Homo sapiens: one gene and its partners. The protein of the gene in region 2 purifies or fractionates together with the protein of the main gene of each other region. This does not show direct contact. Each region holds a gene or a part of one and is shown on either strand. Other genes may lie near its edges.

What was found. The genes of interacting proteins can lie anywhere in the genome.
Region 1: the proteins of SLC39A4 (region 2) and MGAT5 purify together in Homo sapiens (affinity purification with mass spectrometry; 4 studies listed by BioGRID and IntAct, with this or other methods). This does not show direct contact.
Region 3: the proteins of SLC39A4 (region 2) and FAR2 purify together in Homo sapiens (affinity purification with mass spectrometry; 4 studies listed by BioGRID and IntAct, with this or other methods). This does not show direct contact.
Region 4: the proteins of SLC39A4 (region 2) and LEMD2 purify together in Homo sapiens (affinity purification with mass spectrometry; 5 studies listed by BioGRID and IntAct, with this or other methods). This does not show direct contact.

What each region holds. Positions count from the first base shown.
Region 1 is NC_000002.12:134,341,072-134,344,571, forward strand, and holds part of MGAT5 (alpha-1,6-mannosylglycoprotein 6-beta-N-acetylglucosaminyltransferase A), read left to right. Parts: intron 1-518; coding exon 519-688; intron 689-3,500. UniProt on the Homo sapiens protein: Catalyzes the addition of N-acetylglucosamine (GlcNAc) in beta 1-6 linkage to the alpha-linked mannose of biantennary N-linked oligosaccharides.
Region 2 is NC_000008.11:144,414,045-144,418,344, forward strand, and holds the start of SLC39A4 (zinc transporter ZIP4 isoform 2 precursor), read right to left. Parts: upstream 2,801-4,300; 5' UTR 2,746-2,800; coding exon 2,554-2,745; exon of another isoform or gene 2,165-2,553; coding exon of another isoform or gene 2,048-2,164; coding exon 1,766-2,047; exon of another isoform or gene 1,376-1,765; coding exon 1,183-1,375; exon of another isoform or gene 1,067-1,182; coding exon 930-1,066; exon of another isoform or gene 853-929; coding exon 681-852; exon of another isoform or gene 578-680; intron 391-577; coding exon 218-390; intron 52-217; coding exon 1-51. UniProt on the Homo sapiens protein: Selective transporter that mediates the uptake of Zn(2+). Plays an essential role for dietary zinc uptake from small intestine. The Zn(2+) uniporter activity is regulated by zinc availability.
Region 3 is NC_000012.12:29,295,778-29,299,277, reverse strand, and holds part of FAR2 (fatty acyl-CoA reductase 2), read right to left. Parts: intron 2,258-3,500; coding exon 2,078-2,257; intron 1-2,077. UniProt on the Homo sapiens protein: Catalyzes the reduction of saturated but not unsaturated C16 or C18 fatty acyl-CoA to fatty alcohols (FAls). A lower activity can be observed with shorter fatty acyl-CoA substrates.
Region 4 is NC_000006.12:33,782,631-33,786,130, forward strand, and holds part of LEMD2 (LEM domain-containing protein 2), read right to left. Parts: intron 1,890-3,500; coding exon of another isoform or gene 1,863-1,889; exon of another isoform or gene 1,831-1,862; intron 1,798-1,830; coding exon 1,722-1,797; intron 1-1,721. UniProt on the Homo sapiens protein: Nuclear lamina-associated inner nuclear membrane protein that is involved in nuclear structure organization, maintenance of nuclear envelope (NE) integrity and NE reformation after mitosis.

The DNA of each region.
Region 1 (3,500 bases), on a different chromosome or scaffold from region 2:
ATATGTCTAGAATTTGTTTTGAGATAATCTAGAGGGGTTGGGAGAAAATGGGGGTATAGATTAAATATGCATTAATAATTGTTGAAGCTACACAGTAATTACTTTGGCATTGACTATATTGTCATGTTTGCCTTTCCATGTGTTTGAAATTTTCCATGGTAAGAGGTTAGAAGTATTTTAGCTGTAGATAAAAGACCAATAGTGTTAGAAAATACTGTCCTGTCTTACCTTCCTTTAATCCCGATTTTACAAATACACTGTGCTTTTAAAAGGTGGAATTATCTGTCCATACCTTGTACTCATAGCCATACCAAGGGCTGCAGTGATTTTGTTTCTCTAAAACCACAATGAAAAATGATTTCCTTCCTTTGTACCTTCTAGAAAAACAGCATTCCCCACCCTTTGATTTTGTTAGGATGTAAACATGACTTTGGGATTGGTCAATCATTTCTTGGCGCATTACTGTGCCTTTTGTATGTGGTTCAGTGTGAATCAGTATATGCCTCTTTGTTTTCCAGGTCCTCGTTCACCTGGGACTCCTGACCAAGGAATCTGGATTTAAGATTGCAGAGACAGCTTTCAGTGGTGGCCCTCTTGGTGAATTAGTTCAATGGAGTGATTTAATTACATCTCTGTACTTACTGGGCCATGACATTAGGATTTCAGCTTCACTGGCTGAGCTCAAGGAGTAAGGAGATTACTTTTCAATTTTAAAATCAGAATACAAAAAAGAAATTGTAAACTCTTAAAGTATTACCTCTATTAGTGTATAATTTTTTGTCGAGGAAAATGAAAGTGATAATTCACTAAACAGGAGATAAGAAGATTATTTTCAGGAGCTAAATACATACACTGTGAAAAGGATAATATGTTTTCATTGTCGCTGAAGGCTCCAGAGGCTTCATAAATGAATGCCAGAAAATTCAAACTAAGGAGCTTATTCTTTGCTATTACAGGTGCTTCCAACATCTGGAGCACAAAACATTATTGACTTTCCTAATTCCCTGTCTCTTGCTGAAATTCATACCACTGCCTACTCAACATCAATCTTGCTAAATCTTGAAACAGGGCAGGTTCCTGTTTGTAATTCAATTTGGATAGAATAAATTTCCTGAAAGCCCTGAGCTGATCCTTTTTCAATTAGCCAACTTTCAGCTGAGTCTGTTAACTCTACTTGGGTTTTTCATTTCACTGAAATTTGCTTCTAGCTCCAGCCCTCCTGTAATCCCTTCTATATTGGCATAGCTGGCTGAGCAGGGACGCTTCCATCCCCTGCAGTCACTTAGGATTACTGCCCATGGAGACTTCCCACCCAACAGTCAAGTTGCCATGTTGCTATATGTCGTATATTTCCAGAAGGAATACCTTGAATGAACATTCTAGAGCTCATTGAGATGAGAGACATGTTAAAACAATATATGGTGGCTCCCAGCACTTCGGGAGGCCAAGGTAGGTAGATCACTTGAGGCCAGGGGTTCAAGAACAACCTGGCCAACATGGTGAGACCCTGTCTGTACTAAAAATACAAGAATTAACCGGGTGTGGTGGCCCATGCCTGTAGTCCCATCTACTCGAGAGGCAGAGGCTGCAGTGAGCCGAGATCATGCCACTGCACTCCAGCCTGAGTGACAGAGCAAGTCTCTGTCTTAAAAAAAAAAAAAAAAAATTGGATACACAACCTACAAAGTGGCTGCATTTATACAGTTAGCAGTCACTCATCTGGTGTCTTCTGTAGGCTAGTTTTGGTGTCGGGCATACAGAGATGGCCAGCTTGTGGTCAAAGATCTTGCTGCCAATCTTTTGATAATTACAACTAATATATTAAAAATAATTACACAAATTCCAATTCTATTGGTGCTAATTGAGGTGTACGTGGATGCTAGAATGTAAGCACTGGGATTGCAGAAAACTGAGTATCGTTTGTCACTGTGTAGTGGGCACCTAGATAGTGCCTAGCAAGTAATGAGTACTCACATAACTATTTATAGAATGAATGAGTGAAGGAATAAATAGGTGAATGAATGAGTGGGTAGGTAAATAAATGGAGTGCTGTGGTAGAACCAGGGACAAGTACTGCCTGGGGAGGTCAGGAAAGACATGTTAGGGATTTATCAGTCAGAGACTGAATTTGATGGTCAAGGGAAAATTTGTTCAGTATGTCCTCACTTAACATCGTTGATAGGTTCTTGGAAACTAGGACTATAAATGAAATTATGTAAAATGAAACCAATTTTTTTCATCAACATTATAACCAGTGATTTGAAGGAAATGACTTTATTGGAGGGCCTGCTATCTGTTGTTTTGTTTAAAGTCCCAGTTTTCAGGAACCTATTGATGATGTTAAGTGAGGACTTAATTCTAGTAGTCTTTATGCACACTGGGGTCAGGGCTAGATGTGTTTTGTTTAAGAAGATAATTGTGGAAGCAGTATAGAGCAGTGGTCTTTAAATATATCTGTACGTTAGAACCACCTGGAGATCTTTGTATTTATTTCTTAATTTTGGGGGATCTTTTAAAAATCCCATAGACCATGCCATAGGCTAATTAGATCACAACCCTTGGGGGTAGGACACAGCCATAAGTATTTTGTGATGCCTCCAGGTAATTTCATTATACAGACAAGTTTGGGAAACACTGAACATGGGGTGGACCAGAGATCAGCAAACTATGGCTCAGCAGGCCAAATCAGCCCTCTGTCTTTTTTTGTAAATACAGTTTCATGGGAACACAGCCATGCCTATTGTTTACGTATCATATATAGCTGTCTTCATTCCACAACGGGAGAATGGGCCAGTTGTGACTGAAAATGTATGGCCTGCAAAGATGAAGATAATCACTGTCTGGCCCTTAACAGAAAGGGTTTTCTGACTCTTGGGAGGAAACTGGTTCTGCAGAACCTAGTTCTTTCATAAACAGGGGAGAGGAAGAAGGGTGGCTGATGTGGTGGTAGTACAGAGCTGTCAAGCAGAGTCCTGTTTGTGACTCTCGTCCTTTGAAGCAGGATATCCATAATTTGGTGAAGGATTATCATGGGGTGTTGCAGATAAGCAACAGTGGTGACTGATTAGTGAGTGGATGGCAGTAGGGTTAGCACTGACTCGTTCCTACACATGAAGTTGGCCTACCAATCAAGTACATCGTCACGCTCTGAGCGCAAGTATGGTTTTGTGTGGATGGATGCATGGGTGGGGGAAAGGGTGATTAAAAAAAACTGTAAACCATAGTGCTAGTTCTGTAATATGGTCAAGCGAGGAGGAAAAATTTGACATAAGAGAAAAAGTTAAGGAACAGTATGAGGCAGGTAGAAAGAAGTTAATACTATAGAGGCTAGAAATTGAAGACATTTAGAAAAAGGGGAGGGGAAGGTTAGTAAGGGTGCTAAGCGGTAAGAACAGGCTCTGGGGGAGAAAACTAAGTTATTGAGTATCTAGTATTCATTAGGCACTTTCTTTTCAATATCTCATTGTGAAGAACCCCTGAGAGACTGGTATCCAATGTTC
Region 2 (4,300 bases):
GGTGGGCTGTGGGCTGAGGCCCTCTTCGCTGTGTGTATGCAGCCCCAGCACCTGGGGAGTAGGGGCGCTGGGCTGGGGGGGAGGTCCCAGGGCGCCTCCCACCAAGACCCAGGGAGAGGGGTCAGGAGGTGGGGTGGGTAAGGTCCCTGGGAGGGCACGGCCTGGGAGTCCATGGTGGGGAACGGAGGGCCAGGGTCGCGGGTTTGTGGGGGCAGACCTTGGGCGTCAGATGCAGGACAGCGTCCCCAGTGACTGCACCCACTGCCAGGCTCAGGAAGGTCTGCAGGATGTAGTGGGTGACCCCCCTGCAGCCAGTGCAGGTCAGCAGCAGGAGGCCAAAGACCGCGCAGAGGCAGATGAGCAGCGTGGCCAGGGAGCCGTACAGATACCCTGGGGGCGGGTGAGGCGGCTGTGAGAGCTTTTCTTCCAGACTCAGCCCCTGCTTCCCGGGCGCTGCTCACCAGAGCTGCAGGCCGTCAGTGTGGGCCAGGCCCTCACTCAGGCTGACCCTCCTGCCTCAAAGCCCCACTCTCCTGGCGACGCCACCTTCCCCTGTGTCTGTTGTTTCTACTTCCAGCCCCTGCTCACTCTCTCCATCCCTCATCCTGGGCAGCCACTCCTTCCTTCCTACACGGGCTCCACCTCTGTGCTGCCAGCACAATGTCGGCGTGGGCACTCACTCTCTGACTGGCTGAGCTGGTCCTGGACGGGGGGCCTGGACTGGGAGGTGCAGGCTCCACTCAGCTGCTGTTGGAGCAGGGCAGGGCTCAGTTGGGCCCAGGCCTCCGGGGTCACCCCAGCCTGTTCCGACAGTCCATATGCAGCCATCACGTCCCTGGCACTCAGGCATACCTGGGGGGTGGCAGGACAGGCTCAGGGGCCCAAGCAGACCCCGGTGAGGCCCCATCTTACCCCAGGGCGCAGCTCACCGTGTCCCACACACTGGAGCTGTTGCTGGAGCTGATGAGGGGCACAGGGTCCCGGCTGCTGGCTCCCCTGTGCCGATGACTGTGGTCACTGTGGGCCTCCCTGCCCACCCCCAGGCGCTGCATCAAGGCTGACAGCTCTGGCAGGGAGAAGAGTTGGCACCGCGAGTCTGTGTGGGCTCCGGCCCTGCCCCCCAGGGACGTGGAGGCTGGGGACTCGGGGGTGCCCCCCTCCACAGCCCAGCCCAGGCCTCACCGGCCAGCGTCATAGGGACCTCGCTGCTGTGCTGCTGGAACACAAAGTCCACGAAGTACTGAGGGCTCGGCAAGGCGTGGAAGCAAGACCCGCTCCTGACATGGTCCAGCAGGGCAGCCAGGACGCCGCCAGCACTGCCCGGAGCCCCCGCCCCCACCGCCTCCTCCAGCAGCTGAGGGATATCTACGCAGGCCTGGGGAAGAGGGGGCCTCCGCCTCAGCCTTTGGTGTGACCTTCTGCCATCCACCCCGCTGCCCCTGGATGCATCTCCCACCCCAACTACAGGATCTGCCCCCACCAGCCCCGCCCCTCCCTGGAGCCACAGCCCTCCCTGCCGGGCCCAGCTGCTTCAGGCTCCCACTCAGGCCTCTGGGTTCCTCCCTCATGAGGTCCCTCCCGGGGCTCCTACAGGCTCCCAACTGCCCAGTAGTGAGCCCCACGTTGTGAATCCCCAGCCGCAGGCCGACTCCTGGGCGTCTCCCCAGGCCCCCAGGCTCCCCGAAGGCTTTGCAGCCAGGCCGGGTCCCATGGGCCGTGGGACCCTCCTCACCCACTCCCCTGGTCTGCCTGGACTCTCCCTCACCATCTTGGGGGTCTGGCCGGCAGCCCGGGCCTGCATCCTCTGCAGCAGCCAGCTCAGGCCCGGGGTCAGGGCCTTGGGGCTCTCGAGCAGGGCCAGGAGGTGGTCTGCATGAGAGGCCCAGAGGCCAGCCCGAGCGTCCTCACAGGTGCCCTCGGGGTTGCTGAGGTACAGGACGGCGGCGGCACTGAGGCGGGCGACGTACCTGGCCTCCAGGACCGGGCCCGGGGGCAGCCCTGACCCCTCAGGCTCGCCCAGGCCCAGGGCGTCCTCCACAGACAGGCACTGTGGGCAGAGACAAGTGAGCAGGGGCGCTGGGCCCACCAGGGAGGGGAGAGGCAGGCCTGGCCAGGGGCTTCCCCGAGGGCCTGTTTCCCTTTCAAGTCCAACAACGTCCACCATCCTCTCTCAACCCCTGGCGCCCTTCCGTCTCCCCAGGCCCCTGTCCTGCTTCCCCAACTACAGGGGTGCACGCAGAGGGGTCCCCAACAGTGGTCCCCCATCCCCAGGGGACTCCCCTGGAGCCACTGCCAATTTGATGGCAGAGGGCCGGCAGGGGGAGTTGGCCCTGGGGTCCTGGGGAGAAGAGGGACTGTGTCCCTGGAAAGGCCTGTCTGCCCTCATGAGCAGGAGGGTGGGCTCTGGCCTGTGGGGAGGGTCAGGGTGCCCAGGTACTGCCACTAGCCTCCTCCGCCTCCTGGAGTTTGCCCAGGGCCCTTTGCTGCCGGCTGGCAGGGCGGAGCTGGCGGGAAGAGGCCAGGGCTGGGGGACCCGTCGGGTGGGGCTGTTACCTTTCCACACGGCCCGTTGGCGCAGTGCACACGGTCCGCCAGCGTATTTAACAGGCCGCCCAGAGCCTCTTGATCCAGAGCGCCCTGGCCAGAGGTGAGCAGGCTCAGCAGACCAGCAGGCGGGGACGCCGTCGCCGTCACCACCAGCACAGCCAGAAGCAGCCCCAGCTCCAGCGAGACCAGGGACGCCATACTCAGCTCCCAGCGTGCTCAGTGGGTGTTGCTGTGGCCAAGGCCCAGTGCTTCTGGGCTGGCTGAGGGCGGCTTTGCTGGGGTTGTCCAGGGCCAGACTGGGGCTGGGCTAGGACCCGCCCGGGCTGCATGAGGACCTCTCCCAGGTATTCCTGCAGAGCTCTGTGATTGGCTGCTGGAGATGCCTGGGTTAACCATTCCAGTGGCAGATCCTCCCCAACAGCCTGGAGCCACTGCCTGTGGGGGTCGAGGGCTGGGCCCCTTCCCCTGGACAGGCAGCCTCGGTGGTCTTTTTTTTTTCGAGTTGGAGTTTTGCTCTTGCTGCCCAGGCTGGAGTGCAATGGCGTGATCTTGGCTCACGGCAACCTCCGCCTCCCGGGTTCAAGTGCTTCTCCTGCCTCAGCCTCCCGAGTAGCTGGGATTACAGGCAGCGCCACCACGCCCGGTTACTTTTGTATTTTTAGTAGAGACAGTGTTTCTCCATGTTGGTCAGGCTGGTCTTGAACTCCCAACCTCAGGTGATTCGCCCGCCTTGGCCTCCCAAAGTGCTGGGATTACCGGCGTGGCTCACCACGCCAGGCCAGCCTGGGTGGGCTTCTGTCCTCTGCCTGCTGCCCCCCAAGCTGTGGGGCAGGGCTGGGGTGTCCCCTTCTGGCTGTCCATCTGGGGGCTGCCTCCAAGCTGGGGGACACAGGGCAGAGGTGCACAGATGCCCCCAGAGCCTGAGAGCTCCCAGGTCCCTGCCTCTGCCCCTCCCAACAGAGGCTGCCCAGACACCCTCGGTGGCCCCTGTTGGGGGTGGGGACATGGACCTCCCTCCTCCTGGGTCCTGGGCTGTGGTCCCTGTTGGGGACTGCGATGGAGTCAAAGAAACTGAAAAGGTGCCTGCTGCATCATGCTCCCTTAGGCCGGAGACAGCCCCAGGAAGCTCCAACACAGACAAACAGGAAGACGGAGCTGGGCCCTGGCAGCCACCTGGCCGAGCTTGGGTCAGGATAAGATTGGGGCAAGACCCCAGCTCTAGCCCCGGGGGCAGGGAGGCTGTGGCTCCCAGCCCTGCCCTCTCTGTGGGCTCCCTCTCTGGCCTTTGAGCCTAGAGGCCTTATCTCTACCGTGGTGGTGATGGCAGGAAGTCTGGGGGAAGGGGAAGGCAGATCTCAGGGCAGCTTTGCCTTCTGAAGGGGGAGTCCAGATGCCACCTCCCGCCCGGTCCAGCCAGCCTGACCCTGAGCATTGTGGGTGGGGCTGGGGTGGGGAGCTGGGTGCCTGAGGCCCAAGGACTCTGTCCCGCCATACACAGGGTGGGACGGGGCAGGGCGGGCATTGAGCCCAGTGTCCTGGGGTCAGGGTGCTTCCCCTGCCGGCCTCACCCCACCAAGCGGATCTCATGGTGCTCCTCTGGCTGGGCCCACCCGCAGTGGTATCCTTCTGGGGGCCCTTAGGGGAGCCTGCCGGGGGTGCAGATCCTGCCGGGGGTGCAGAGCCTGCTGGGGGTGCAGATGATTTCTGGGTCCCAGGACCATGAGGGGGCTGCTCTACACACAGCCTGAAGATG
Region 3 (3,500 bases), on a different chromosome or scaffold from region 2:
ACTATGGGTGAACTCTTACTTCTTTTCTTTTCTTTTTCTTTCTTTTTTTTTTTTTTTTTTTTTTGAGACAAAGTTTTGCTCTTGTTGACCAGGCTGGGGTGCAATGGTGCAATCTCAGCTCACTGCAACCTCCACCTCCTGGATTCAAGCAATTCTACTGCCTCAGCCTCCCAAGTAGCTGAGATTACAGGCATGTGCCACCACACCTAGCTAATTTTTTGTATTTAGTAGAGACAGGGTTTCACCATGTTGGTCAGGCTGGTCTCGAACTCCTGACCTCGGGTGATCCACCCACCTCGGCCTCCCAAAGTGCTGGGATTACAGGCATAAGCCAACACACCTGGCCTCTTACTTCTTTTCTCTGATGAACTCTCAGGCTCTTTTGCTACCTCAAATTGCACTATGACCTGTCAGGTGTTAGAGAGATCAGCAGTGGAGAAAGTCCCAGGAAACAATCTGGAATCAAAAGGGGTCTGCCCCTCTCCTGGACATATCAAATATGAAAACATCACATTTACCAAGAGACAACACCATAAGAGGGTAACTGACAGAAACCAATTCCATCCTGAAAATGCTCTGAGGCTTTAAACATACTTTATTGTCTAGACTTTGGGCCTCAGAATACACCTGCTTTTTCTCCCACTATCCTGATGAACTCTGCACTCTAAAATTTTTCTCTGTACCAATTTAGCAAACCTCCATTTATTAGCAACTTTAACCTCCAGATCCTTTAGATGACTTTCATTCTTCTTTGTCCTGGATATTTTTACATGACAGACAAAAATATCTATTCTCAGAGCTGGAGGAGATAAAAATGTTTGCCCTGAAGGTAATGAACTCTTGATTTAGCTAAAACTTTTTAAAGAGTATATATTAAATATAAATACAGTATTATATAAAATTATAATGTGACAAATTCATTGTGAAATAGTCCATTTTTCTGCTATAATACTTTTTATATAGTTTTTTACAAAAAAAAAAAACAAGGTAAACTTAGTAAAATGGAGCAGAAGAATAAAGAAGCAGAAAACAAACTTATTCTAAGACCTGAGCTGTGTTTTAAGATGAAAGTGGTTTCTGCTCATTGGCAAGAAGAGAAAAATCCTAGACATTATTTCTCTTGCATCCTAGGACAGTAAAGAAAGTGTGTCTCAGCCAAATAAGTCAAGAGACTGTCACCTTCTGCCAGATCTTGGAGCAATTCTTATTCTTCATTAGTTCTTTTTTTTTTTTTTTTTTTTGAGACGGAGTTTCACTCTTGTTGCCCAGGCTGGAGTGCAACGGCACAATCTCGGCTCATTGCAACCTCTGCCTCCCAGGTTCAAGCGATTCTCCCCAGGTTCAAGTGATTCTCCTGCCTCAGCCTCCCAAGTACCTGGGATTACAGGCGCCTGCCACCACATCCAGCTAATTTTTGTATTTTAGGCTGGTCTTGAACTCTTGGACTCAGGTGATCCACCCGCCTCAGCCTCCCAAAGTGCTGGGATTACAGGCGTGAGCCACCACCCCCAGCCTCTAGTTCTTTTTTATGAATTATTTGATTAAGTGCTGTTAAACACTCCCTAGCACTGCAATAAGTGTTTTATATAACTTTTTTCAACCTCACAACTATAAAATGGGCCCATTTTACAAATGAAGGACTTGGGGCTCAGAGAGGGCAAGGAATTTGCTCAGTCACACAGGTAGTTACTGGTGGAGCTATGCCAAACTCACGTCAGTCTGAATCAGACATTTTTCTTCTGAACTTTTATACTATACATTATACTTGCTTTATCCAGTGACAATGCTAAGTTCATTAAGAAGTGAGAAACAACTTCTATGTATAGTATTCCCAAGTACCTCATGCAATCCTACGCAATTCCACAAAATGTTTAAGAATTTTCTATCCCCCTTCTCTTTTAGCAGTATATTCCCCACCAGAACTAGCAGGGACAAGGTAGCTAAGGCTAGCACCGTTTCAAAACATTTTGCTTCAAAAGTGTTTGACTTCATCATCTCATTAATAGCTACAAAGAATCAAAGAGAACAAAGGAACTTATTCTACCCGCCCCTTGATCCTTTTATTAGACCAACTTACTCAAGGGAATCAATGATTTTTTTTGGCTCCACAGGGCACGGATAGATAACTTCATCGATGTGCTTCAGGTTACAATTTGAATAGGCAGTAGAGATATGTATAAAGGCTTCCAGCTTTGGCATCTGACTAGCCATAAGCAAGAGCTGCCGGGTGGCAGTGACGTTAAGTTGCACAGCATGTCTAGAGAAGATTAAGCAGAAGGAAATACAATGAAGTAAGTCAGTATCATGCCTTGCTATAACTGCACCTACTCCAATAACTGGCATACCTATCAGATTTTGGTGGCCGCACCAAAACACCAGGAAGAGAAGGATGGGTCATGGCTACACAGTTATGTGATACTCGGAATGTTTTATGTAGTGATGATGTGTTTTGTGCACATAAATCCTATTCACTGACACACTGTACATATATCTAGAGGACAATTGGTTCTAATCAACCGGAAAAAGAATTACAATACTCTGAATTTATAAAGGTGCTTCTATAGGCAGCCATTAAAAGAACACAAACATGTAAATTAAGCATCTAACTGAAGAAGTTGGAAAATGTAAATAAACTGGAGGGGAGCAACAGTACATTTTTTAAAGGAGCAATGTAAGTTGCTCTTGTAAAGATCCAGGCAAGACATGAAAATTGATGTCAAAATCTAAAATTGCAGCTAGTAGAATGCAAAGCTATATAAACAGTATGTGATAACAATGAAATAGTTCATTCCAGGAATACATGGTTTATCAAATACCAGGAAACTTACTAATTTAATTTAACTCAAATGAGAAAAACTATATAAGAATCTATATGTATTTTGAAAAGTTTAAAATGACATTTAATTTCCATTTCCAATTTAGTTAAACAAATTCACTAGAACTGGTGAAAAGCTAGGAGCACTGCTTGTAACGTCAGTGGTAGGAATAATGCCTACAATCACACTACTACTTAACATTGTTCTGAAGTCCTAGCCTTGGAATTAATTAGAAAAATAAAATTAAAGAACAGATATAGATACTAAAAAGACAGCCACAAAAATTACTGTCGGATTATATAATTGCATACATGGAAAACAGAAGCAGCTTTTTAAAAAAACTGAAATGTACTATAATTCAGTAAGGTGTCCACTGATAAAAATTACGTTAAAAGGCCGGGCGCGGTGGCTCACGCCTGTAATCCCAGCACTTTGGGAGGCCGAGGCGGGTGGATCATGAGGTCAGGAGATCGAGACCATCCTGGCTAACAAGGTGAAACCCCGTCTCTACTAAAAATACAAAAAATTAGCCGGGCGCGGTGGCGGGCGCCTGTAGTCCCAGCTACTCGGGAGGCTGAGGCAGGAGAATGGCGTGAACCCGGGAAGCGGAGCTTGCAGTGAGCCGAGATTGCGCCACTGCAGTCCGCAGTCCGGCCTGGGCGACAGAGCGAGACTCCGTCTCAA
Region 4 (3,500 bases), on a different chromosome or scaffold from region 2:
CCCAGAACTTCTGGCCTCTTGGTTCTTGTCTAATCACATTTTATATCACCCAGTGGTCAGGGAGGTAGGTGGCCTGTCTCTTCCAGTAGACCCCAAGCCGGGGTTGGGCCCTGCAGGCAGGACCTGGAGCTGAGTCATCTCACTGCAAGGGCCTGCACAGTGCCCAGCCCACAGCGGATCCCTAACAGGAGAGGCATGGAAGGGGTTGAGGACTACTAGGGAGCCTCTGTGAGGCACACTCCTGTCTCAATGAGATATGTACCTTCAAGGCGGCCCCCCAGGCTTGTCGGAGGGCAACAGGTGCCAGGGCCCTTGAGGGCATAAGGCAAGACCACATATGGAGGGTAGGATGGAGGAGAAATATCTACTAGGACCCAATTTCGAGCAGTGCTTCTCAACTTTAGGGTGCACTCAAATCCCCTGGGGATCTTAAGATACAGACTCTGATTCACTGGGTTTGGCATGAGACCTGAGATTCTGAATTTCTAGTGAGCTCCCACGTGATGCAGATGCTATGGGTCCTTGGACCACATTTGAGACACAAAGGTTTGGAACACTCTCTTAGGTCAGAATTGACATCCCAAGCACCTGGGCCGTACAGAGGAATTCCTATGATGCTGTGAGCAGGAGCCCCAGTACCTGTTTCTCCTCCAAGTGCTCATGGATGCCTCCCCTACCATCTCATCTCTCACTTTCAAGAGGGAGGAGGCAGAAGAGCTGATGCTCATGAGATTGACCCTGAGGACTGAGGGCCCAGGAGAAGTCCACCCGACCCTAATTTCCCAGTGAAACCTTAGACAAGGGTTGACCTCACAATCCTAAGACCTGTCCTCTGACCCCACAGGTAAGAGGCGCCTCTTGAATATCCCTTAAGATAGAACTGCTCTGTCTGGTTCTTGTGTCCAGCGCATTTAACACAAGGCGCACATGCTGATATTCACCTATGTCAACTGCAAGTGATTTTGAGAGCCTCCTGGATGCCAGGCGTCGGGCAGGACATAATAATGCAGGTGGTATCTCTGGCCTCAAGGAATAACTTCACCAAATAAAACAGTAGGGGATGCATCTTCTGGATGCATTTTCAGGGGCATTTCACAGAGGTGCTGAGAATGCCCTCCTTTAGAGGACAGCACTTGACTCTCATTTGTAGAGAACAGACAGACCCAAGAGCCCTTGGTCAGACAGGGAGATGAAGACCCTGAGAGGATCAGGGACTTTGTCCGAGGTCCCACAGCCACATGGTGATCAGGACCAGATGTGACACCAGGGCCCACTACACAGACTATCTGCTACTTGCACAGGCAAGAGGCCTCTCCCGGGCCCAGCCAACCACCTGGTTCAGAGGGTCCCTCTAGGGTGAAGGACACAGATCCTGACAACACCTGGGGCTTGGCCCCTTCCCATGCCAACAGAGACCCCCAAAGCATTAGGTAGTGGGCATCCCCAAGAAGGAAGAACAGCTGCAGGAAGGCCTGTTCACATGCCAGGACCTCCCTTAAAGAGGAGCAAGAATCAAATATGTTTTGTTCAAACACAAGGCTTATAAAAGATGTGCCTGAGTGAGGAGGCGAGAAGGTGAGACTCGGCTTCTGAATATGCCTTCTGAGAGACAACCAGGGAGTGTCTCGCTGGCCAGCAGCAGTGTAACTAAGCCTGATGAACCGGGTCAGCCGCCCATAGCTCTCACAAGAGGAATCTCAGGACTTACGTGACTTACTCACCAGCTTGGATGGCCAGGAAATTGTAGAGTTCATGCAGCAGCTCCAGCAAGGCTGCCTTCTGCTTGGCCTGACAGAACTGGAAAGGCACGGGACAAGTGGTCAGCAAGGAGGGGTGGGTGGGAGGGGTCCGTCTGTCCATCTTTACTTCTCCAGCCACACTGTCAAATACTAAACAGCAAGGAATATCTCATACTTTTACAAAATAGAAAAAAATTCTGCCAAGTGCTGGGCCTAGGGAGAGAGTTGATAAATATTGGGTTAACTGCCTGAGAAAGACCCTGGAGAAGCAGAGGCAAAGCTGAAAGCAGACACTGTAACCAAGGGGCTGCATCCCAGAGGCTCCTGGCTCCTGCCTTTCCCTTGGAATGACGGCCATTAAGAGGGCTGAGCAGAGGCGACGTGGTCGGGGGATGATGCAGTCGCTCAGCTTCCTCAGAGGAAGAGCAACTGCTGTCGGAGTTTGCAGAGATGGGAGAGCTGGAAGAGCTAGGAGAGCTTGCAGACAGGGCAGAATGTCAGCAGCTGCCATCTCGTCTCCCGTTAGGTGGAATCTCAGAGCCCTCATCTGAGTAAGGATTGTGGTAGGATTCAGTGCGAACTCACACAAACCACTCAGCAGAGGCTGCTACCACCTAAAGGAAACAGGAGGACAGACGGTACCAGACAACGAGACGGCCTGATTAAGACAACACACCCACTCCCAGCCTGTCCCCACGTTTTCAGCAGCACAAAGGCAGAAAGAAAAACACAAAGTGTCACCGTCTTCAACGACCGAAAAGGGAAAGAACATGAATCTGAAATTCAAATGCCCGTCTGTGATCTCGGTAAGCCTGGAGCCATGCAAAGAATAAGACTTTCAGCAAGAGCCTCACCAAAGCCAAGAAACACGTCCCCACCTGCTTGTTCCTGTGTCCACCCTCCAGAAAGGCCAAGGGTGCCCCATGAAATCTTAGCTCCACAAAGCCTGCATTGAGATGGCCCAGCCCCTGCTTTCTGATGCTCTGATGAAGGTCTGAATGGTTACAAATAGGGATATCTGCGTCTGAAGCCCTCGCTGGCAGGTGCTGAATGCCGTCTGCCCACGGAGCGCATCTGTAGCTAGGACCTGGAGGGTACCTGTCTGGGCTCACTCAAGTGGAGCCTGAGTGTGTCCAGATCAGAGAAGGCCAGGGAACAAATGTGCCATTCACTTGTGGGTCTGATTCATTTAGAGATGTGAAGGACCAAGAAATAGAAACCATGGAACTTTTTTCTAATTAAAAGACAAAACTAACAGCACTGAGAAGTCTTACAGAAAGTTATTTTTTCCTGTTTTTGTTTTAAGTCTTCAAATTCCAGTTTCCCCTCTGGCTGCCTGTGTTTCTGGGCCACTTCCTCTCATCATCAACTACAGTTTTTATGATAGAAGGCAGATTAAACTTACTATGAATCTGTTTTTACAAAACAATTGGGAAGCAAAGATATTTGGTGGATGAATCCAATAAATGGATGTAATAAAACACCCCCAACTATGACACACCCGAAGCCAAAGAGAAATAAAAGCCGTTATCTGCACCAGGATGCCCCCTCATTTACATGAGTAAGACAGTCAATGCAGGGCTGGCCAGAGGACCATGCGTCATTTTCTTTCCCAGCCCCTGGGCTACTAGAGATGTTAACTAAGGACTTGGGAGGCCAGGCATTGCACACTTAATTAGACTACTAAGTCATGCCCTCTGGCAGCACAAGACTCCTCCTGGTACAATTTAAGACCTGAAAATTTACTGCCCCATATCTTCT